Linked DNA regions of Homo sapiens: all the other regions are reported to be linked to region 5. The links are microRNA targets in miRTarBase. Many come from high-throughput screens and were not tested one by one. Region 5 holds a microRNA gene; each other region holds the end of a gene's coding sequence.
What was found. Region 5 holds the annotated microRNA hsa-miR-101-3p (UACAGUACUGUGAUAACUGAA, at 2,044-2,064, shown strand). A microRNA usually pairs through its seed, bases 2 to 8, with sites in the 3' UTR of a target mRNA and lowers its output. Matches are read on the target gene's strand: a 7mer-m8 pairs with bases 2 to 8, a 7mer-A1 pairs with bases 2 to 7 and ends in A, and an 8mer does both.

Region 1 (3,115 bases), not on the chromosome of region 5:
ACAATCGATTTGGAAATCATGCTGTCAATTCTCTTTTACTACATGTATCCGAACAATTTCCTGTTAACTAATGTTTTGACTTTTGGTTTTAGTATATTTTAGTACAAAAGTCCAGGAACAAGTTCTTCAGTTGGATCTATCTGAGATGCTGATTGTTCAACTGATGAACAAAACCACCATGTGCTCTACTAAAATATGAGTGTCTGTTTCTTGTAGTCCTTGTAATTTAGTTTTATCCTATCTGTGCATATATAAAATTAGTTTCATTTATCACTATGAGACAAATGATAAAAATATTTTAAAGTAAGCATGTAGCCTGGGCACGGTGGCTCATGCCTGTAATCCCAGCACTTTGGGAGGCCGAGGCTGGTGGATCACAAGGTCAGGAGTTCGAGACCAGCCTGGCCAACATGGTGAAACCCCGTCTCTACTGAAAATAAAAAAATTAGCTGGGCATGGTGGCAGGCACCTGTAATCCCACTATTCAGGAGGCTGAGGCAGGCAAGTTGCTTGAACCTGGGAGGCAGAAGTTGCAGTGAGCTGAGATCGCGCAGCCTGGGTGACAGAGCGAGACTCTGTCTCAGGAAGAAAAAAAAAAGAAAGTAAGCATGTGTAATTCTTATTTAACCTTTTATATTGATCAACAGCCAGAATAAAAGCTACTTGGCCGTAAGGCTAAAAGACCAAGATCTGAGAGATTCAAGGCAACAAGCAGCACAAGCCTTCATACATAATTCATTATATGGGCCAGGAACCAACAGGACTACTGGTAATTTTTTTATGGACTATTTTTCTCACTTTTTACTGCAAATAAAACTGTGAAATGATAAATACCTTTCTTTTCTAGTAAATAAGTTCCTGTCTCTTGCCAACAAGAGGTTACCAGTGAAAAGAGCTGCTGTCCAGTTTTTGAATAATGCTTGGGGTAAGATCCAGCTTTATTCTCCTGTCTCTAATAGCTTTATATGTTGAATAATGTTCTTTTGAAGGAGATAGTTCATAATTATACTTTTCCCCCTTATAATGGCTTATATATTAAGTTACTTGTGAAAAACAGGTCAATGTAGTATGTATATACATCTAAAGTATAATAAGCCCACCCAGTTTTAGTAATTACATTCATATAGAGTAATTAAAAAAATTTTGAATTATGTTTTTCTAATATACTTACTGCAGAAAACTTTATATTCTAGGAATCCAAAAAAAACAAAATGCCAAGAGGTTTAAAAGACGGTGGATGGTCAGAAAGATGAAAACTAAGAAGTAAATCAATGCTAAATGAAGAATCTGTACTTTGTATGTATAGAATTTATCTAATAAATCATTCATAGATCATTTTAAAGGATCATTATAAAAATCATAAACCTATTTGAGGAAGTGCTCAACCACATTTCATTCTTCTGGAGTAGAACTGTGCCTTGCAATCCTAGAGGAAAAAGTGGTTTAAGAAGGAATTGTTTTCTTTTTAATATATTTAACTGAATTCAAGCCATACCCACATCAGCAACAGCACCTCTTCTACTCTCCCCGGGTTAGAGGGGTGGCAAAAATGGCACGGACTAAAAGGAGAAATGGATATTCCAGCAAAGTCTCTAACTGCAGCCTGTAGACAATTTGCTATTAAAGATTCAGTGCACAAAATATAGCTAACAGCTTTTAAATTTTTACTTTTAACCAGTCTGGGGATTTGCTTGCCTGGTGAGTCTCATATGCCATATTATGAATATGAAAATAATGAAGTTAATTTCCTGTTGCCTTTCTGTGTCAGCCACAATATCAGGTCTAACCCTAATCCAGGGATGCCAGTAAACTGAAGGCAATTTTAGGTTGTAGAACTCAGATTAATTGTAGAAACCATTAATTTTAATTGCTCTAATTTTCATAGTAATCATAAAAAGTATGCAAGTACCTAATATATAAACTCAATTGACACTGTATCTGTAGAAGTAAATTTTTAATGGCTGGTTAATTATATCACTACATTTTATTGCAATATAGTACTCATTTAAGCACTTAAAAATGGAAGGTGTACAAAGATTAAATTAAGACACGGTAAATTGACTAAATATTTGGTTTTTATATAAATAAAGGTCATAACCACACCGTTGACATGTAATACTGTTATAATACAACAGTTAAACTTGTGAGTCTACAACAGAAGTCATCTGTAGTTAAACAGGAAACAAAGTTGAAAAAGACCATGTTAAAACAAAACTACTGGGACTAACAGGTCGGGATTGTAAGTAGCAACAAACATATTCACTCAGCTCCTGAGTATTTCAAGTTTTACAGTACACATTAAAAATGATTTCTTCCATCAACACTATAAATTCAAACTGTCGGATGTTTATGCATTTTGCAAGTTACACTGATTGAATGCTTATATGGGAGTGGGGGTCGGAACATCTCCCAATTTGAAGTTTACATCACCCACATGCTAACACAAACACAACTTGTTCCATTTCCTTCCCCTCTCTCCCCCCTCCCCCACAAAGAAGGCAGGATTTTTGGTTTCTTTTAGGTAATTGTTTTAAAGGATTTGTGATGATCAATTTGAACGTCTGAAATTCAGTAATATTTAACTCTTAGACAACTAAGAGGTTAAAGATGGAAAATAATTTCTCCTAACACTAAGTTAGAAAATCATTTGCATCATGCTGTAAACTAGGAAGCAATGTAAAGCGACAAAAACCTGTCCCCAGTACATAATTTAAAAAATCTAAATTTCAAATCAGCAGAGCTGGTCTACTTCCATGTTGACTATATGCCACAATATAAGTGTGAGCTCTTGAAATGCATAGCTAATGTAGGTAGTCTTCCACTGTGGCAAATGCGCAGGATCCAATTCCTGATCGAGCCATCAGTCCTAGACATTGTGTGGCCTGTCCCATTGCTAGGGCAAGTGGAGGTTGCTTTGGCAGATTGTGGGTTTCTGAGGAAAAATAATTTAAAAATGAGAACAGCAATTAGCAAGACATTTTAAAAAACATTTCAATCAGGAGAATACTGCAATGACTTTAAAAACTACCACTCCCATACCACTCTGAAATATCAGCAAATGAAGGTTTCTAAGCAAAAGACAGATGCCGCCTTGGACATACTATTCTGACAAGGT
Region 2 (3,115 bases), not on the chromosome of region 5:
CGTGCCCGTCCCCCAGCTGACCAGCGTGCCCCTTGGTAAAGTGGTGTCCACCCTGCCGTCCACCGTCCTGGGCAAGGGTTCCCTTCAGGCGCCCCCCGCCAGCTCCCCGGCCTCCCCGCTGCTCGGGGGATACACAGTCTTGGCCTCTTCCGGCTCCACCTACCCCAGCACAGTGGAGATCCACCCGGACGCGTCCAGCCTCACGGTCCTGAGCACGGCCGCCGTGCAGGACGGTAGCACGGTGTTCAAGGTGGTCAGCCCGCTACAGCTGCTCACGTTGCCTGGCCTGGGCCCCACCCTGCAGAACGTGGCCCAGGCCTCGCCTGGCTCCAGCACAATTGTGACAGTGCCCGCAGGGGCTGCCCCCGGGCCTGAGGAGCACACGGCCACCATTGAGGTGGCTGCCATGGCAGAGGACCACGAGCGGAAGTAGCCGACAGGAGGGCGAGGCCCCTGGGACGGACAGGGCTGGCTGTCTCTCAGCCGCGGCAGCAGGGAGCGGGCAGAGGCCGCAGGGCTGGCTCGGGCAGGTGGGTCACGTGGTCTGCAGAACCAAAGAGAGGAATCGCCAAAACAAATCACGAGAAGAGAGAAGGGGACAGAACAGCGAGAGCAACCTGGAAAATCGGTCTTCAGGTCCCACGTTTCCTCCCCCTTTTTTCTTGGGAAATATATTTTTCCATCTGTTGCTTATTAATACTGTTTACACATTGGGCCTTGATCAGGAGCCAGGTGGGCGGGGGCTAGGGGGAGCCTGGGTGCAGCAGAGACAGAGGAAGCAGAGCCAGGTGCCGAGCGCGACCCTGCAGGTGCTGGACGCGGTGCAGCAGGTCACGAGGCCCCCATGTCTGCACCCAGCCAGGTCCCTGGGGACGTTACTAACTCATGACTTGGGAGCTAAGCCCAAGTGTGAAACCTCTGGATCCTATGGATTTGGTTTCTTCCCACAGTTTTCTGTAGGTTTAGTGTGGCTGGCGCCCCGTTCTCCTCCAGTTGGGAACATGCACCCGGAGCTTGGGGTGCAGATCCTGATGGGTGCCTGCCTCCCCCGCCCCCAGCCGGTGCTCAGGTGGCCCAGGGGCCGCACAGACGAGGCGTGGTCCAGGCATTGTTGCACATGTACTGAGGGTGTTTTTAAGTGAATTGCTTAGTAGGCTTCTAGGAAGAGTCAGATTTATAGCATTTTCAACCAAAATAATGGTGAGTGCCTAGGCTTCCCGAGTTAGCTCTTTGGGTGGCCCCTGAGCCCCTGTGAGTGCACTTGACCGGGTGCGGAGGTCCTGGGCAGCCTGTCCCTGAGCCGGCCCCTCCCAGGGGTCTGAGATCCATGAGGTGTGTCCCTAGGGCTTCAGTCCTGGGGCAGAGGCATAAACAGAACCAGTCACTATGGAGGTCGAGGATTCCCATGTGGGCCCTTCAGCTTGGGCTGCTTGGCCACGGAACAGCCCTTGGCTCCCTGGCCCCCGGCCCCCATGCAGCCCCTGGGCTGGCCCTTGGTGGTCTCTGTCCAAGGGAGAGCCCCTGGGTGTTCAGGAGGCTGCCCCGGGTGGGCTGCTCAGGGCAGCTGCCGAAGGTGGAGCCCAGAGCCTGTCTGGAAGGGCTGTCTGTGGCTGTCCTGAGACCTGGCCTTGGACTCACAAGGAAGACCAGGCTGAGGCCCCTCCAGGCCAGGGTCCTGGGGCAGGCATCTCAGGGAGCAGCCAGCCCAGGCCTCCTGCCGTCTCCAACAGGGCATGTCCCGGGAGGACCCTGAGTGCCAGATTCCCCTGGACGCTCCTGCTGATTCTGTCGGCAGTTGAAGGCCCGTCTGAGGCCCCGCAATGCGAGGGTCCTGTGTCCCACTTCACTGCTCCGAAGGGAACTGGCTGGCTGTCCGTCCAGTGAGCGGCCCAGACCCCACCTCTGCGCCATTGTCACCAGGGCCCTGTCCTGGCTGCCCTCACCCATGTCAAGCTACTGAGGCTGTGTCTTGTTTGTTTTCTCTGTTACATTTTTGTTTGCTGTTGTCACAGTCAGCTGGTTTCGGCGTGATGTTGATCTTTTGATGTACATACTCCGTTTTAAACTCATTTCCACTCTAGTTGAGTTCTGCAGCATGCAGCGGTATGACCCTACGGGGGTCAGGAGAGCCCTGCGGCCCCCACCCACCAGCTCAGAACCTGTCACTAATACAGCTGCCTGTGACCCTGGGACCCGCAACCTTCCAGCTGCTTCCCTTTGTCAAAGTCACGAGTGCGTCTGCCTTGACAGCCCTCGTCAACAGAACTTCCAGTGGGTTGTGGGTTCATTTCCTTTCTTTTTAAGAACAGGGTTGGGACCTTTTCTGCCCCTGCCCCTTAGCTACTGAGGCATAGGGAGAGGAAGTTAATTTCAGAGCCATACAAAAATAAGCCACAACCAGCTTCAGAATTAATTCCCAATCCCCCATTCCACCAGGGCTGGGAGCCCATTCCCAGTGCTTCCCAAGGCCCTCGGGGACATCTACCGCCAACCCAGCTGCTTCTGGCAGGGGCTCCAAGCCCCAGCGTGGGGAAGGGCCCTGGAGAAGCCCTCATCCTCATGGGAACCACACTGCAGTGGGTGGGGAAGGTTGTTGTCAGCACCGCCCCCGGCTCCTCCAGGTCCTGCTGGCTCCTCGGGGGCAGGGTTCCCTGGACCTCCCAGTTCTGCGCCTTGGGGCCAGCCAGTACTCAGAGAGGAGGACCTTCTCAACCACGTACAGAACACGGGTTTTCATGGCTGCCTTTGGTTTGGTTTTCTGAGAAGATAGGATTGGATTGGATTTTGCAGAGGGTGAGAACTTCTCTGTGCCTGCTCAGAGGCGCCCTAGGGAAGGGCCATGTTTGAGTTTTGCTTTGTATGTTGTTTTGCAAGTATCTGCCTGGTACTTTGATTTAAAATAAAAACAATTTTCATAGTTTGAGTGTCTATCTCTTGGAATGAAGTGTGGAGAGAAATCAAGTCTATAAACACGCCCAACGCAAACAGCGCTGGCTGCCACCCCCGCCCCGGACCACTCACACCCACATGCTTCGTTCTTCCAAGTGTGGCCTGGGGGCTTCAGGACCCTTCCAGGGTGTCCCGAGGTCAAAGCTGTTTTCATCACAGCAGGTGC
Region 3 (3,000 bases), not on the chromosome of region 5:
GGGGAGAATCCGGGTCTTAGTCCCTCTTGTTCCTTCTGCCCCCTGTGGCCCAGGGCAAGGTTGAGCCAGGCCAGGGCCACGGGAGGCTGGGAACGGACGAGGCTTGGCCCTGCTGGCCGGGGATGGCCTGTCCTGCCCACACACTCACCTGCCTGTCCAGGATGGCCTGCCCTGCCCATCTGCTGCCTGTCTGGGATGGCCCGCCCTGCCCACGCGCTCACCTGCCTGTCTGGGATGGCCCGCCCTGCCCACGCGCTCACCTGCCTGTCTGGGATGGCCCGCCCTGCCCACGCGCTCACCTGCCTGTCTGGGATGGCCCGCCCTGCCCACGCGCTCACCTGCCTGTCCTGTGTGTGTGTCATCCCCTCCCCGCCAGGCATATGCAATGATGCTGTCCCTTTCCGAAGACACTCCTCTCCACACCCCCTCCCAGGGTTCTCTGGACGCTTGGTTGAAGGTCACTGGAGCCACGTCGGAGTCTGGAGCATTTCACCCCATCAACCACCTCTGACGGGCTGGGCAGCCGGGGGCCGGTGGCCAGAGCGAGGGCACCAGCCACGAAGGACGGAGGCGGGCGGGGCCCCGGAGAACCCTGTCCCTGCGTGTGGCCACTCCTCAGCATCCTCCCCACCCACCATGGTTCATTCCGACTTTTCCAATGGAAACTCAGATCCCAAAAGTCCCTAAAGCAGTCGTAGAGTCTCACCATCTCCAAGGATTGGTCTTGAGAACACTGTTCAGTGACGGCCATGCAGGTGGCCGTCCAAAGACAGCCAACGGAGCTGCCTCGCAGAATCAGCCAGTGGGCAGGTGGACGCTCTGCTGAGACAGAAGCTGGTGGCCACTGCCGGGTGCCCGCGTGGGGTCGCGGAAGGGAATGGATAGACTGGTGTGCTCAAAAGAGAGAGATCACTCAAATGATTTTTATAATGAAATGACAAGAATAACCCTTTTGGTAACCGTATTGACTGCAGAGTCTATTTAAGCATGTGGTTTTAAAAATAGACAGTATTTTTTAAAAATCAAAAAATGACTTGCAAATTGTTTTTTAAAAGTAATTTTGCATTGCTTTGAAATTTGAGCTCATTTGCAAACCCGAGTCTGCCTGGGAACCCGCACTGTGCCTGGGTGTATTCTTTATACTGTAGATAATGGAGAAATTTTCTATCTCTGTCCCTATTTGTATAAGCCAAGGTGATGCTGGGTGCCCCGAGGCAGAACAAGAGGCGCGGGGCCACACCCGTGAACCATGCAGACGGCCGAAGAAGTCTTAGGCAGGGCGCCCTGGGCTGCAGGCCTGCCCGAGGCTGGGATGGGAAGTGTGCCTGCCCTCGTGTGACATGGAATTGGTGTCAGGACCGCCACGTGGCCTTCAGAGGAATCCACAGGTCCCCACCCAAGATCCCTCAATTATATGGGGAAGTCGAGGGCCTGTGGCTTGGATCCGCCATGCAGAGATGTGGCCGGGCACCCATCTTCCTTCCCTCCTCTGTCCCTGCCTCGGCCACCCCACGCGGGAACCCAGCGCCGTCCTCTGAAGGCAGGGCCTTGGCCACGTCCTGGGTCTCCCACCTCCCACCTGACCCCAGCGGCTCCGGTGTCCTCCACGTGGCTGCCCTGGGGAGCAATCCCAGCGGATCGCTCCGGGCCACCAAGCCGCACCTGTGCCTGAGACTCCGGATGGACGACACAGTCGTCACGTCGCTCTTCCTGCGGGTTCTTGGCGAGACACAGCTTGAGAACAGAAGGGCGTCGGGGGAACCTGCCGCAAGGAGCAGAGACAGCACAGCCCCCCGGGCCCAGCCGCCTCCCTCTCTTGGGACGCAACTTCTTCCCCACTCGGATGGGCTTTAAATTATTCCCATAGGGGCCAATTTCAAATAATAATTTTTTTCCCTGATGGAATTTACCTTAATCTGTATATAACTTGTAATTTTTTCTAATTCATTTCTTTTCTTATTTTATTTCCTCCTTAACAGTATTTTTGGCATTAGACATTCTTATTGTGAAGAAATAATGTTAATATAAGTATCTGGTGAAGGACCAAAACCGTGTGATAAGGTTGTGTGTCGTGTGGGAGTGGGGCGATTTTTTATGTGCCAAATACCCCCGTCCCCCCCATGAATCCTGCTGTCCCTGCTGCCGTTTACCAGACAATCATATGTTTTTGTTAAATTTGCGTTTCAGTTACATTTGCATTTAAGACAAGTGTTCTATTTATTTCTTGTATTGTTTGGAAGAAAAAATGATGATAGAGTCCCAAAAAGAAGAGAAAAAAAATGCCCAAGTTGCCCTTTAAAAAAAAAGAGCGTAAATACAAACAGGAGTGGTGCAAGCCGCCTTGGTGTGGGTTTGTGTCACGTGTGGACATCTCCTCAGGCTTTGTGTCACGCGTGGACATCTCCTCAGGCTGTCCCCAGCGGTGACGGGAGGTGTCCTGGCTGCTCCAGGACAAAAGACAATCGTCTCTGTGGGTGCCGGGTGGTCCAGGCTTGCACTGAAGACGTGCCACGGGGAGGCTCCTGCAGGAGGCTCAACCCGACGGATCACAGTGAAAGGGATTCCTCCCACGCCAGATCTGCACAACGAGGCAAGACAGGACCCACCTGTGCGTGCGCTGGGGCCATGGGGTGGCCCCGCCGGGGCAGCGGGGGAGCTGCCTGCAGAAGAGCCAGCTGGCGTGTCGGGAAGGATCCAGGATCTGCAAACACAACTGCTCAGGCCTTCTCACGCGTTTCCACAACATCCCCTGGGTCAGACCCACCAGGTACCCCGTAGGAATTTCCAGTTTCCCTTGATCTAGATGGGATTCTTATAAAAATTCAACCTCAGACATAAACACCCCATTTCTGTAAACCCAAATTATATGGTTTCTTCTGCGAAAGAGTAAGGTGTGTGCTTTTTTTTTTTTGCAATATGACCCCGTCTCTCTGAAGTGGGACATTCGGACGGATGGAGCCCTCAGCGTGTCTTTTCAGCAGGAGCAGAACCGATGAGAGC
Region 4 (3,115 bases), not on the chromosome of region 5:
GATCACCTGAGGTCAGGAGTTGGAGACCAGCTTGGCCAACATGGTAAAACACCATCTCTACTAAAAATACAATATTGGTGAGGCGTGGTGGCTCACCTGAGGTTGGGAGTTCGAGACCAGCCTGACCAACACAGAGAAACTTCATCTCTACTAAAAATATAGAATTAGCCAGGCATGGTGGCATATGCCTGTAATCCCAGCTACTGGGGAGGTTGAGGCAGGAGAATTGCATGAACCTGGGAGGCGGAGGGTGCAGAGAGCTGAGATCACACCATTGCACTCCAGCCTGAGCAACAAGAGGGAAACTCCATCTCAAAAAAAAAGAAAAATATTAAATTCCCCATGAAATAATGTATCAAACCCTACTAACTTATACACTTTATTTTAATTTAATTAATTCATTTGTTTATTTATTTATTTTGAGATGGAGTTTTGCTGTGTCACCCAGGCTGGATTGCAGTGGTGCCATCTCAGCTTACTGCAACCTCTGCCTCCTGGGTTCAAGCGATTCTCCTGCCTCAGCCTCCCAAGTAGCTGGGACTATAGGCGCCTGCCACCATGCTTGGCTAATTTTTTTGAATTTTTAGTAGAGATTGGGTTTCACCATGTTGGCCAGGCTGGTTTTGAACTCCTGACTTCAAGTGATCCACCGGCCTCAGCCTCCCAAAGTGCTAGGATTACAGGCATGAGCCACAGCGCCAGGCCAATAAATTTTTATTCCATATTTATTCAATAATATTTATTGAGTACCTACTGTATATCAGAAACTAGTTGAAATACATGTGATTATGACAATGAATGAGATCAACAAGTTTCCAACACTAAGAGAGCTCTCATTATGGTGGGGGTAGAGAGATGAAGCAATATATAAATATAGTAATTTTAGATGATGCTGAGTGCTATAAAGTAAATAAAAATAAATAATATGACCAGATGACTGAGTATGTGTAGGGCTACTTCAGATAGGTAGTCACAGAAAACATTTTTGAATAGGTGACATTAGAAGTGAGATCTGAATGTTGCAAAGGAGGCAGCCACTCTCAAATCTGCAAGCAGACCATTGTAAGCTGTGGGAACAGCAAGAGCATAAGTCTGGAGATGGTAAGAAACTTACTGTCTCTGAGAAACAAAAGAAGGTGTGTTTGGCGTGTAACGAGCAAGTCAGGGAATGTGGTCAGATGAGATTGGAGACTTTAGCAGGGACCAGATCTTTTAGGTTTTTACAGGCCATAGTCAGGAATCATAATTTTATCCTAAGTGTGATGGCAAGCTATGCAGAGTATATCAGTGTTCTTAATAATAAACAACAAAATTAGTTTAAGGTGAAAAGCATTTAAAGAATATTAGAAGCCGGGCACAGTGGCCCATGCCTATAATTCCAACAGTTTGTGAGGCAGAGGTGAGACAATTGGTAGAGTCCAGGTGTTCAAGATCAGCCTGGGCAACATGATGAAACCCAGTCTCTACAAAAAATACAAAGATTGGTCCAGGCGTGGTGGCTTATGCCTGTAATCCCAGCACTTTGGGAGGCCGAGGCAGGCAGATCACCTGAGGTCAGGAGTTCGAGACCAGCCTGACCAACATGGAGAAACCCTGTCTCTACTAAAAATACAAAAGTAGCCAGGCGTGGTGGCGCATGCCTGTAATCCCAGCTACTCCGGAGGCTGAGGCAGGAGAATCACTTGAACCCGGGAGGCGGAGGCTGTGGTGAGCCAAGATCGCACCATTGCACTCCAGTCTGGGCAACAAGAGGGAAACTCCATCTCAAAAAGAAAAAAAATCTAAATGACCTTAGTCCTCTGACTCAAGTCACACATCAGAAAACAGTCACCCTTGCCTGGGCACTGTAGCTCACGCCTATAATCCCAGCTACTTGGGAGGCTGAGGCAGGAGAATCACTTTAACCCAGGCAGAGGTTGCGTGAGCCGAGACTGCACCACTGCACTCCAGCCTGGGCAACAGAGCAAGATCCTATCACAAAAACAACAACAACAACAAATTGCCCTTCCAGGAGTATAATCACATTTGTAGAGAAAAGTCATGTTTGGAGGGGATGTTTAGAAATATATTGACAAATTGCAGAAGGCACTGAACCCGTTAGCTTCTATAATGGATTTCCCTTTCAGTCTCAAAACATTTCCACAGGTTGGTAATTTCTTCATTGATTTTTTTATTTTCTTTTTCTTTTTTTTTTTTTTGAGACAGAGTTTCGCTCATGTTGCCCAGACTGGAATGCAATTGTGCGACCTTGACTCACTGCAACCTCCACTTCCCAGGTACAAGCGATTCTCCTGTCTCAGCCTCCCAAGTAGCTTGGATTACAGGCATACACCACCACGCCCGGCTAATTTTTTTGTATTTAGTAGAGACAGGGTTTCATCATGTTAGTCAGGCTGGTCTCGAACTCCTGACCTCAGGTAACCCACCCGTCTTGGCTTCCCAAAGTGCTGGGATTACAGGCGTGCTCCACTGTGCCCGGCCTTGACTCGATTTTTTTTCTTAAATAAAATCAATTAACATCCATTATAAAAACTTTAAATCTACAGTAGGGTAAAAATAAAACACATAAAAACTCCTTTGCATACCCCTCATTTAGTTCTACTCCACGGAATCAACGACTGTTAATGTTTTCTTGTTTATCCTTTCAGAACTCCATTTATTGGTGAGAATGGTGTCATGTAAAATGTCTTAGCCAGTGCGATGGCTCATGCTTGTAATCACAGCATTTCTGGAGGCCAAAATAGGAAGATCACTTGAGGGCAGGAGTTCGAGACCAGCCTTGGCAACACAGAGATCTCCATCTGTTTAAAAAAAAAAAAAAAAAAAAGAGTTTCGCAACACAGTCTATATATTTATTTATTTTAAATTTTTTTTTGAGATGGAGTTTCACTCTTGTCACCCAAGCTGGAGTGCAATGGCACAATCTCGGCTGACTGCAACCTCCATCTCCCAGGTCAAGCAATTCTCCTGCCTCAGCCTCCCGAGTAGCTGGGATTACAGGCACCTGCCACCAAGCCTGGCTTTTTTTTTTTTTTTTTTTTTTTTTTTTTTTTTGTATTTTTAGTAGAGATGGAGTTTCACCATGTTAGTCAGGCTGGTCCCAAACTCCTGACCT
Region 5 (3,115 bases):
CAATAGATTTTCATAAAGGCTAGCAGTAAGATCAATCCTTATTTCCTTCACCATTATTAGGGCTACTAAATGATATCTGACAGCCAGAGAATTTCAGAGTGTCTGTATCTGAAAATGGATTTATTTCCTACCCTACATGCCTTAAAAAGGAGGCAGGGGCAGTTGTAGCCATATGAACCACACTGCTGGCCACCTATCCTGTTCAGTCTAGCCTTGGATAGTAACGTGCCTTGGTCAGACTGGATTTCTAATTTTGACCTGTGCAAAATATGTAGAAATTCAAGGTCATCCTTCTTTGACTATGTACAATATGTTTTAAAGTTATTCCAGAAAGAATGATCAGAAAGCGTGTTTGTATGCTTATGTATGCGTCTAGTGGAGGCAAAACAGTTAAAATGGCTGAGAAAATGAAAAACAAAAGAAGAAAGGCAACCTAAGCAGTTGTACCTCAGGAGAAAGTGTTTGAAGAGAAGTCTGTTCTGCTTGTTAATTTGGAAGAAAGGGAAGGAAAAGGGGGTGGAAGGCATAATTTTATACATAAGTAGTAAGAATAAAGGGATCTAACCTTAACAAGTCTTCAGTTTTAAGGAACTCAGGAAGAGATAAAGGAGAGAAGTTAATAGAGTATGGCAAGCAGTTTCCTGAATGTATTTGAATAAGTGTAAAAGTAAGGCCATGAAAAGGCCGTTTCATGTCAGATAGACTGTGTTGTTCTGTGACAGATTCAATAAATATGAGCGTCATCCACTTAACCCTTGGAATTAACTCTACATCTTCTAGAACTGATTAAGATTTTTTTTTTTTTGCATATACTCAATAAAGATGATGTCCTCCTGCTGCTGCTTTAATGATAAAGGGAAAGTTTCATTTTTTTTTTTTTTTACTAGATTCACTTAAGAAGATTTGAATCTGATAGTCTCATTCTGATAGTCTCAACTATTACAGTTGCTCTAATTAACTGTTAGTTTAACCCTCTACAGTTAGTTGATACAATGATTACTCTTATAAGACCTGTATTCTGTTTTATTGTTGCTTGAACTTTGGATTTTGATATTATGAGTGTATGTTTCTGGTTTTTTTTTTCCTCCTCTCTTTTGTTGGCTTTCCATTTTCTGGTTTGTACAATTATTAATTTGTGTTTACAGGGTGGATGCGTAGACTCGACCAACCAAAGCCTGGCGCTACTACTCATGACCCTTGGACAGCAGGATGTTTCCAAAGTCCTGCTAGGCCCTCTCTCTCCCTACACGTAAGTTATTCTTTTTCAACCTCGTTATTCTGTCCAGTGTAATTTTCTCATTGCCCAAAATGACAAAGGGTGTTGTGCTGCACAGAGCCTGCACTATGAACACCTGCTTGTGTTTATCCTCAAATCAGCCAGCAGTTGTCACTCTTAACCTGGTGTTTATTTTTACATACAAGGATTTTTGCATTTCTTTCCTTCCTTAATCCCAGGTAACTGAAATTGCATGATCTCTATTGGGCAGTTATTTTGTTCGTGCTTTAGATTTTGTTTCCAGGTTAGAGGTAAACTCCTGGTTTGGTGTAGCTTGGATTTTATTACTAGTTTTTTTTTAATCATTCTTTTCCTTAGCTGTCTAACTTGCTGTGGGAAAACAGGCTTTTTGTCTAAGATGATAGGATATGAGCTCACTGGGAAAGATGACAAAAGACAGAGTTTGTATTAATGCTACTGGACTAGTAGGGAATTGTAGAAGTGAGTTTGGATTGTTGAATGTTAGCAGAAGTTGACTGCTGTGGTGTAAAAGCAAGCACTCTTCAAAAAGAACAGTGTCAGAAGACTTGAATTATAAATGACACTGTGAAAGAAGCATTTCCTATTGATAGTAAATGAGGTTGCGGAAAACAGCCTATTTGAGTACTGACATTGTGTGTGTGTGTTTTCACGTGCTTGCATACTTGGAGATCATCATATGGCCCATCTGAGGTTGGTGAGCTGGGTGGCAGGGAATATTCAGGTAGATATGAGACTGAACTGTCCTTTTTCGGTTATCATGGTACCGATGCTGTATATCTGAAAGGTACAGTACTGTGATAACTGAAGAATGGTGGTGCCATCACATTGAGAAAGGGTTGAGGACTGCGGTGGGGCTATGCACCCTTGGGCCATGGCGTTGGGGGCATGAAAACCAGGAGCTTGAAATAAATTCTTATGGAGGCTTTTTTTTTTCTTTTTTTTTTTTTTTTTGGAATTCGTGGTGGGAGGTTTTTTTAGAACAGGAAAATGGAAGAGAATACATTCTGTTAGCAGAGAGGGAAGACTGATAAGCAGGAAACTGGTAAGGACCACATTATCTCCTGATAGCTTGTGTAAAAGTATTTCGTAGGACAGGATACCTAAAATTGAGTAATCCTAAATGGCGTGGTAACATCAGTAGTAAACAATGCTAAAATAGACTTGGTAGTTAAGTACTTGGAGAGGAGATGAGGGCTGGAAGAATGGCACCCTAGGTACAGAGACTCGCTTCCTGTAGAGAGCTCACTGGAGGCGGCTGCCAGCTGTGTGGCCACTGTGGCCCCACCGGCTTTGTAGCTGGGCTCGTAGCTGCCGTTTCCCAGCCCTTGCTTCAGGCCTGGGGAAGTCCTGCTTGCACACACGGTATGAGGTATGGGGTGTTGTCTTGAATGTGTGTGGTCCTGGGGCATGGGGTTTGGCAGAACATTCTGTGAAAATGGAATACATATATGTTTTTTTTCGTGACACTTTTTTTCTTTTGCTTTTGGAGATTTTTCAATTTGGCTCCAGGACCTGTATGATGTTTTCAAGCTTTGCAGAGATGCTCAAGATATGACTGGACATTTTTGAAAGTTCCTGTGTCCTCTTCAACACATCTTCTCACCAAACATTAATTGTAGTGTCTTTTCTTCCAGAAAACTTGCATAAAATGACTTCCTCTCCTGTGAAAACAGTGTCCTGCTCTGAATGGAGCTTTAAAGGAGTAGCACAAATTGTAAGATGATGTATCTTGAGGCTGGGGCTTAGAGATATTCTGCTGCCTCCCAGAGCTTTGTGCAGACGGGTCTGCCAGGGTGGGAAAGGGAAGCCTCCGTTCTTTTTGGTAAGCTAGCATAAAGACAGGTAAGGGAGTCTATT
Region 6 (3,000 bases), not on the chromosome of region 5:
CTCTTCAATCATTCTATGATCTAACCACATTGAACCATAAGTCATAACTCCAAAATAATGTATACTTTTTAACCTCAAACTCATGGCTCATGGAATATTTTCCATGAGCCAGCTAGACTCCACTGCTCCTTCTGATCCAGCTTGAACGCCATCTCCTTGGCATAGCTGCCTTAATTCCACTCTACTCCATCTCTTATTCTTAAGAAGGGCCCCACTCACTGCATATTCCCTTATTTATTTTTCCTGTGGTTAGCACAAGTGTCTCTAACCCAGATTCTACAGTGTTTAAGGACAGACATCATCTCTTGTTGCCATCTCTGAGTCTCCAGGGCACTTTGAATGGACTTTTAACCAGTCTAAAAATAATCTTCTTAAATTTCTACTTTTAAAAAATGGTGATTTTTTTTTTTAACCAAAGAAAGCTTTTAAAAATTCCCAAAGAAACAGTTAACAGTTTTGTTTGCAATGTACCCAAATAGTGAACTCCCTCAGCTCTACTGCATTAAATATACTTTTTTAACTCCCTTGCAGTTTTATTATTCCAGGTGCACTGCTACCATAAGAGGCTTTGTGAGCTACTGCTATAAATGTCATTCATTCCCATTAAGCAAGTGTATTATATACAAAACGATTGTCTAAATTTATGTTGACCATTCTAGAGGGTAGTGTATCAGGTAATACATCAAAATATCTGAGGTCTAAAAATGTAGAAAGCAACTTTTATAATTTGAGGACTTTTTATTTTACTGAGCCCAACATATTATATGCTTGCTCTTGCTGTGACTGTAAGACATATCAAAAAAAGCAGCAGCTAAATTTGACCATTATACAAATAATTCAAACAAAACTCATACATAGCTATCTCAGTTACGTGGGTATTTTAGGTGAAATTACAGGGATTTGGGGTATTGAGGAAGTTATTAAAAGGGATGCTTTTGGCTCTGATTGAACAAGTAATGTACTCAGTTTTCATTAAAATCTATGGAAGATTTTAAACATGGCAGTCAATTTCAAGGATTATATTCCTTAACTCATTTGAAGAGAATTTGAAATTAACTAAGAGACTCATAGTCTCTTAAAAATTAATAAGTTATAAAACTGTGATATGCAAACATTGAAAAGATGAACACAAATGGGCATATTTTTATATTATCTCAAACAAGTATATTATTTAACATTTAGGTAAAAAGCAAAAGTGAAAAATGGGCATCTTTTTGACTCTTCTCAGTGAAAATACATATTCTTATAGGTCCATTCCGGAGTTTGGAAATCAATATTAATACTTTATGCAATCATTCTTTCTCATGTTTTTCTCCCCTTGACAATCTTCTCAAGTGGCATAAGTGCTTGTAATGTATTAAAAAGTAGGCAGAGACAAATCATTACTCTCTAGAAAATATTTATTGACACATTTTAATTTTCTTTCCATATTCTGAGAAATAAACAAAATACACAAAATACAGTAAAATGCACTTTTCCCATTTCAAATAAATATACTATACTCTTGTAAAAAAATTTAATAATCTGTGTAATTTGCCACAGTATATTAATCAGTGAAATAAAACAAAGAATCTCTAAATTGTCACATGTTTTAATGATTCTCACAAGCATTTTTCTGGAGAAAAAGAACACTATTTTCTGTAGAATTTATATTGACTTGGAGACTATTGCTTCTTGTTTGGAGAAGGCAAAGATAAGCTTTTTAAAAAGTGTTTAGTGTCAAAAAGAGTCTTCATTTGGGAGAAAAACAGCATACAAGTCCTTTCTGAATCAACTAAGTTATGTGCAAATTTTCTTATTAATACTTCCTAAAGACCAGACTACATTCTGAATAATGATTCCTATGTATCACACTGGTAATTTTCAAAATTAGTGGTTAAGTATTTAAATAACAGTTATATGTGTAATATAAGCCCAGGACAGAATAGTAAAGCTTTATTAACAGGAAAGGCTAAAAATAATGATGCTATACAGGACAAATTTTCCTTTTCATAATGGTTATTCTTAACATTATCAGAACTGAAATCGACTGAATTATACAGATTTAACACAGACTTATATACAAAAAATCCCTGATCAGCTTAAGACAATGTGTTAGCTTGCTCTTTTAAGTGGTAAGAATATTTTAGTAACCAGCAAAAATCACATTTAGGTAGTCACCAATATTGAAAGTTTTCTGATATATAATTTATTTAGCATCAGAAGAATAGATCGCTGAGTAATAAAAGTTATTAGTATTTTCTAACTTCCTATGTTAGCATTTAATTAGTACTTTATATACTAGTTGGTAGAAGTAAATCAACCTTTACTATGGCTCCAGTCCCACCATATGTGACTCGTTTGCATGGATGCGGAAATGCTAATCAAACCATGCTGCCTCAAAACATAACTGTGTTCAGTAAAAGTCATACACAGGCTACACAGTGGGTATGACATCTGTCTTCAGCATTTTAAGGGCATCAATTATTGTCCAGGTGGTGACTTATGACATGAAACTTTTCCATCCTCATTTTAAAGCATAGAATAGTATATGCTTAGGTGTTATTTTATGGCAACATTTTTATTTCTACATATTTCTGAAACACATAGTATGTACTCAAAAATTCACAAGTCCAGTAAAACAAGTTTGTGGTTTTCTTCTGTGACATTTCTTTTTATAACTCCTCCATCTCAAAGTGTGTATTAAAGCTGTTTGCCATGGATGTGTGTTCAAAGATTCTTGACAGGCTTGGTTTCAACAGTTCTACTGAGGGACATGACAGGTGCTGAGAGTTGTCATTCTTCAAGGACATCATTTGGTCTGTCCCCGGCTCCCTTCTATCATAATACAGAGCCCAGAGCAGAGTAATGGTGAGAATCATGGCCAGGATTTGTGTCACCCCAATGGAGATTCCCAGAAACCTCAGCACCTGCAGTTGTTTGGTTCCTCTCAAAAAGGAATACATTTTCTTCCCACAACCCTGTAAAAGAAATACATGGTCAACATTACTTTAGATATGT
Region 7 (3,115 bases), not on the chromosome of region 5:
TGGTCTCTTTTTTGCATTAGAAAGAAGCTTAGCCCTTAGCTCCCTGAAGACAGCTGGCAAGTCTGAACCTTCCAGCAAGTTGCGAAAGCAACTTAAAAAGCAGCAAGACTCTTTAGATGTCGTGGACTCTTCGGTCTCCTCTTTATGTCTGTCTAACACGGCATCATCTCATGGGACCAGAAAACTATTTCAGATTTATTCCAAATCTCCATTCTACCGAGCTGCCTCAGGTAATGAGGCCCTGGGAATGGAAGGACCATTGGGCCAGACCAAATTCCTGGAAGACAAGCCTCAGTTCATCAGCAGAGGAACCTTCAACCCGGAAAAGGGCAAACAAAAATTAAAGAATGTGAAAAACTCACCTCAGAAAACCAAAGAGACCCCAGAGGGGACAGTCATGTCTGGCCGCAGAAAAACTGTGGACCCAGACTGCACCTCCAACCAACAGCTAGCACTCTTTGGAAATAATGAATTTATGGTCTGAACCGGCAGATGTGTGTCCCTCCGTGGCTACAGAGTGGTAAACAAATCTCACCTTTGGGGCTGCGTTTCATCACCTCGTCCACAATAGTCAATCCTAATTGTGGTCCTGCCTCTTTTCTAAGCATATGGCTAAGACTGTATGTGCTGAATTCCTGGGCCTCCTGCAGAAGCAGAAAGCCTGCTGGGGATGGTGCCAGCTGTGCCTTGGCTGTTGTATTTGAATTGAGATTTTTACTATACAAAGCCACCTAGGGCCTGGGGATTTGGGTCAGTTGTAGTTGCCTCTCCCCCACCCTCTTTTCCCTTCCCAAAGGTGGGTGTTGAACTAGGGGGGATATTGCTGTCCTGAGGGACCCTCTCATTTCTGACATTTGAAGAAAACGTATAAATCTTTCTTAACCGTGAAAGCAAAAGCCTTTGGGTTTATTTTGGGATAGTTAGGAGCTAGGGTAGAATATAATTTTTTTCCAAAAACTTACTTACAAACAAAAAGCCTAATCCCTCTATTTTAAGATTTCTGAAAAAACACTCCATGTTATATTCTGGGGAAAGCAAAAACAAAAAAAAAAAACAAAAAAAAAAAAACAAAAAAAAACCGTGATTGTTTCCATTAAGCCATCAGAGCGTGTCTCAGATATCTTGTTATACAGTGAAGAAGAGAATACCTATTTTTTTTGATGATGTTTGATGTCATAGTAATCAGTGCTGGTTTAACTCCTGTTTAGTTCCTGCCAAATACATTGCATGGGCTGAAGTGTCAGTAGCCATACTGTTCTCATGTTTCTTGGTCCTAGGATCAGATTCTTCTACATTATTTTTTAGTTTCCCAGAGACATGGTGATCCCTAAACTTATGAAGGTTTCATCCTAAGCCATTCAGGCTTTTCTCTTTGTATAGATTAAACCGAAAACCGCATATGAGCCTGTTCATCTGCTGGTGGATTCCCACCACAGACTCAGACTCAAACAAACAAACAAATAATGTGACCGTTTAGTTAGTTTCCAAAAACATTCACATACAATATTGCATGAATAAGTAAGTAAGTGTTACAGAAAGCTGCCAAAAAATAAAAAGGTTTTTAATATGACCTATCTAACTAACTAACTTTTATCTTCCTTTTCTCAGACTATCAGTATTAAATAGATGGAAAAAAATCAAGGACTACTTGAAGCTATTTTTGTTAATATTCTGGTTACTGAAGTTTATTGTAAATATGTATGTATAGTAGGCATATTTCTTTTTAACCTTGTGCTTCCCTCCTTCCCATGGAATTTCTTCCCACAGATGAGGGGCCACTGGACAGGGGGATGAGAGCCATTCGTCCCTGGGTTGAGGGAATTAGTAAGACATCATTTTCACCACTGGGTGGTCTTCATACACATGAGTTATAATAGCATTTTAAGTATCTTAGCATTTGTGGGATTAGAAATCTGTTTTTGCTATTTATAATATATAAAAAATGAAACATGATAGCCTTTCTTGAGATAAGTATGTGAAATGTTTATTTTTAAAGTTACTAAATGCATCTTGTCTTGCTACTACATGCACTGCTCTGAAAAAGAGCCTTTACCATCTATAACCTGTATTTTGGGTATTCTTCCTTTTCATACTTCTTTGAAGTTGTGGAAATATTAAGTCTTTTGTTAAGGCAGAGTCTCTCTCTCCTGTTACACAACACTGAACCTCACGCCACTGCCTCAGTGGTTATTGGCCAGCCCCAGAGGTTAGACTTGGAGCATAATTCTGAGTGGCAGCTAAAGGTAGCAGGAGTCTTACCTCTCCCTACTTTGGGTTCAGAATTGAGCCAGAGAAAGGAAGCCATTAAAATCTCCAGAATAATGATAGTTAATGAGCAAATGTTATGCTTTATATCCCACAGACATCTGCCACCTTGTTCATCTTGTCCTGAGGAGTAATAAATAATGTTAAGCTTTTAAAAATCTGAATTTCAGAGAATCTCCTAGAGGATAGAGGAAAACCCCTCAGCATGGTGTGTTAGAGTGGGATTGCTGGTTCCTCAGCCCCGTGCCAGGTTGCACAGTCTGTGTTTCAGTGTTCTTGGGAGAGTAGTGTACTGCTGGGCATTAATTGTTACTCTGCACTTGCTCCAGAATGTTGGTTAAATCCTGTATGAAAAAAAGAGATTGCCCTTATGGAATAATTTCCTGTGGCCCAGAGGAATGGCCAGAAGAACATATGTTGGCACATGTTCTTCCTTCTAAATCTTTGTGGGGCTTTTTTGGCAAAATAAGTTTTTTGGCAGTTAAAAAACGACTGATGTAGGTCACTTTAAAGGAACTAGGTGATGGATGTTAAGAGACTTTATAATTTTTCTCAGGGACCTGAAACTCCAGTTTGGATAAAATTCAATTAAAAAAACTTGTTTTTTCAGTTGCTAGATTTGTGGATTTCTAGTAATTTAATCTGCCAGGATTGGGGTGGGTGGGTGAGGAGGAGAGAGCCACAAAATGATAAGAGTGGAGAGCAGTGTGGGGCCCTCCCTTTGAGGGAAAGCCGTTGTTTACATAGGGTAGTAGGCCTTGTTGGCCTGATCAAGAGATGAAGCCATAACTCTTAAAAACCTTCAGAACCAAACGCTGTGTCTGCATCCATCTGTTCTCACTGGCCCTCT

Region 1: the mRNA of RANBP9 is a reported target of hsa-miR-101-3p. Seed matches in the 3' UTR shown: 8mer at 2,288-2,295.
Region 2: the mRNA of GMEB2 is a reported target of hsa-miR-101-3p. The part of its 3' UTR that is shown has no 7-base or 8-base seed match.
Region 3: the mRNA of PRDM16 is a reported target of hsa-miR-101-3p. Seed matches in the 3' UTR shown: 7mer-A1 at 1,141-1,147.
Region 4: the mRNA of NANOGNB is a reported target of hsa-miR-101-3p. Seed matches in the 3' UTR shown: 7mer-A1 at 2,542-2,548.
Region 6: the mRNA of TSPAN12 is a reported target of hsa-miR-101-3p. Seed matches in the 3' UTR shown: 7mer-A1 at 1,459-1,465.
Region 7: the mRNA of MYO9A is a reported target of hsa-miR-101-3p. The part of its 3' UTR that is shown has no 7-base or 8-base seed match.

Annotation. Positions count from the first base shown.
Region 1 is chr6:13,619,561-13,622,675 of GRCh38, forward strand. It overlaps RANBP9 (RAN binding protein 9), which reads right to left. Exons shown (of 14, transcript NM_005493.3): 14 at 1,938-2,932. The coding sequence ends at 2,802. It overlaps NOL7 (nucleolar protein 7), which reads left to right. Exons shown (of 8, transcript NM_016167.5): 6 at 648-769; 7 at 848-925; 8 at 1,194-2,152. The coding sequence ends at 1,267. Among named protein-coding and RNA genes, the nearest start is that of NOL7, 5.8 kb to the left of the region's middle.
Region 2 is chr20:63,587,407-63,590,521 of GRCh38, reverse strand. It overlaps GMEB2 (glucocorticoid modulatory element binding protein 2), which reads left to right. Exons shown (of 10, transcript NM_012384.5): 10 at 1-2,917. The coding sequence ends at 433. Among named protein-coding and RNA genes, the nearest start is that of HELZ2, 15 kb to the right of the region's middle. RefSeq lists enhancers at 25-194, 2,112-2,281, 2,875-3,044 and a cis regulatory region at 2,959.
Region 3 is chr1:3,433,301-3,436,300 of GRCh38, forward strand. PRDM16 (PR/SET domain 16) reads left to right here. Exons shown (of 17, transcript NM_022114.4): 17 at 377-3,000. The coding sequence ends at 511. Among named protein-coding and RNA genes, the nearest start is that of ARHGEF16, 20 kb to the right of the region's middle. RefSeq lists an enhancer at 151-660.
Region 4 is chr12:7,773,486-7,776,600 of GRCh38, reverse strand. It overlaps NANOGNB (NANOG neighbor homeobox), which reads right to left. Exons shown (of 4, transcript NM_001145465.1): 4 at 2,480-2,801. The coding sequence ends at 2,750. Among named protein-coding and RNA genes, the nearest start is that of NANOGNB, 9.8 kb to the right of the region's middle.
Region 5 is chr9:4,848,302-4,851,416 of GRCh38, forward strand. MIR101-2 (microRNA 101-2) reads left to right here and starts at 1,996; the gene lies at 1,996-2,074. It overlaps RCL1 (RNA terminal phosphate cyclase like 1), which reads left to right. Exons shown (of 9, transcript NM_005772.5): 8 at 1,146-1,249. LOC124902113 (a long non-coding RNA gene) reads left to right here and starts at 2,066. Exons shown (of 2, transcript XR_007061402.1): 1 at 2,066-3,115.
Region 6 is chr7:120,785,938-120,788,937 of GRCh38, forward strand. TSPAN12 (tetraspanin 12) reads right to left here. Exons shown (of 8, transcript NM_012338.4): 8 at 1,383-2,960. The coding sequence ends at 2,655. Among named protein-coding and RNA genes, the nearest start is that of TSPAN12, 71 kb to the right of the region's middle.
Region 7 is chr15:71,823,949-71,827,063 of GRCh38, reverse strand. MYO9A (myosin IXA) reads left to right here. Exons shown (of 42, transcript NM_006901.4): 42 at 21-3,115. The coding sequence ends at 484. Among named protein-coding and RNA genes, the nearest start is that of NR2E3, 15 kb to the right of the region's middle.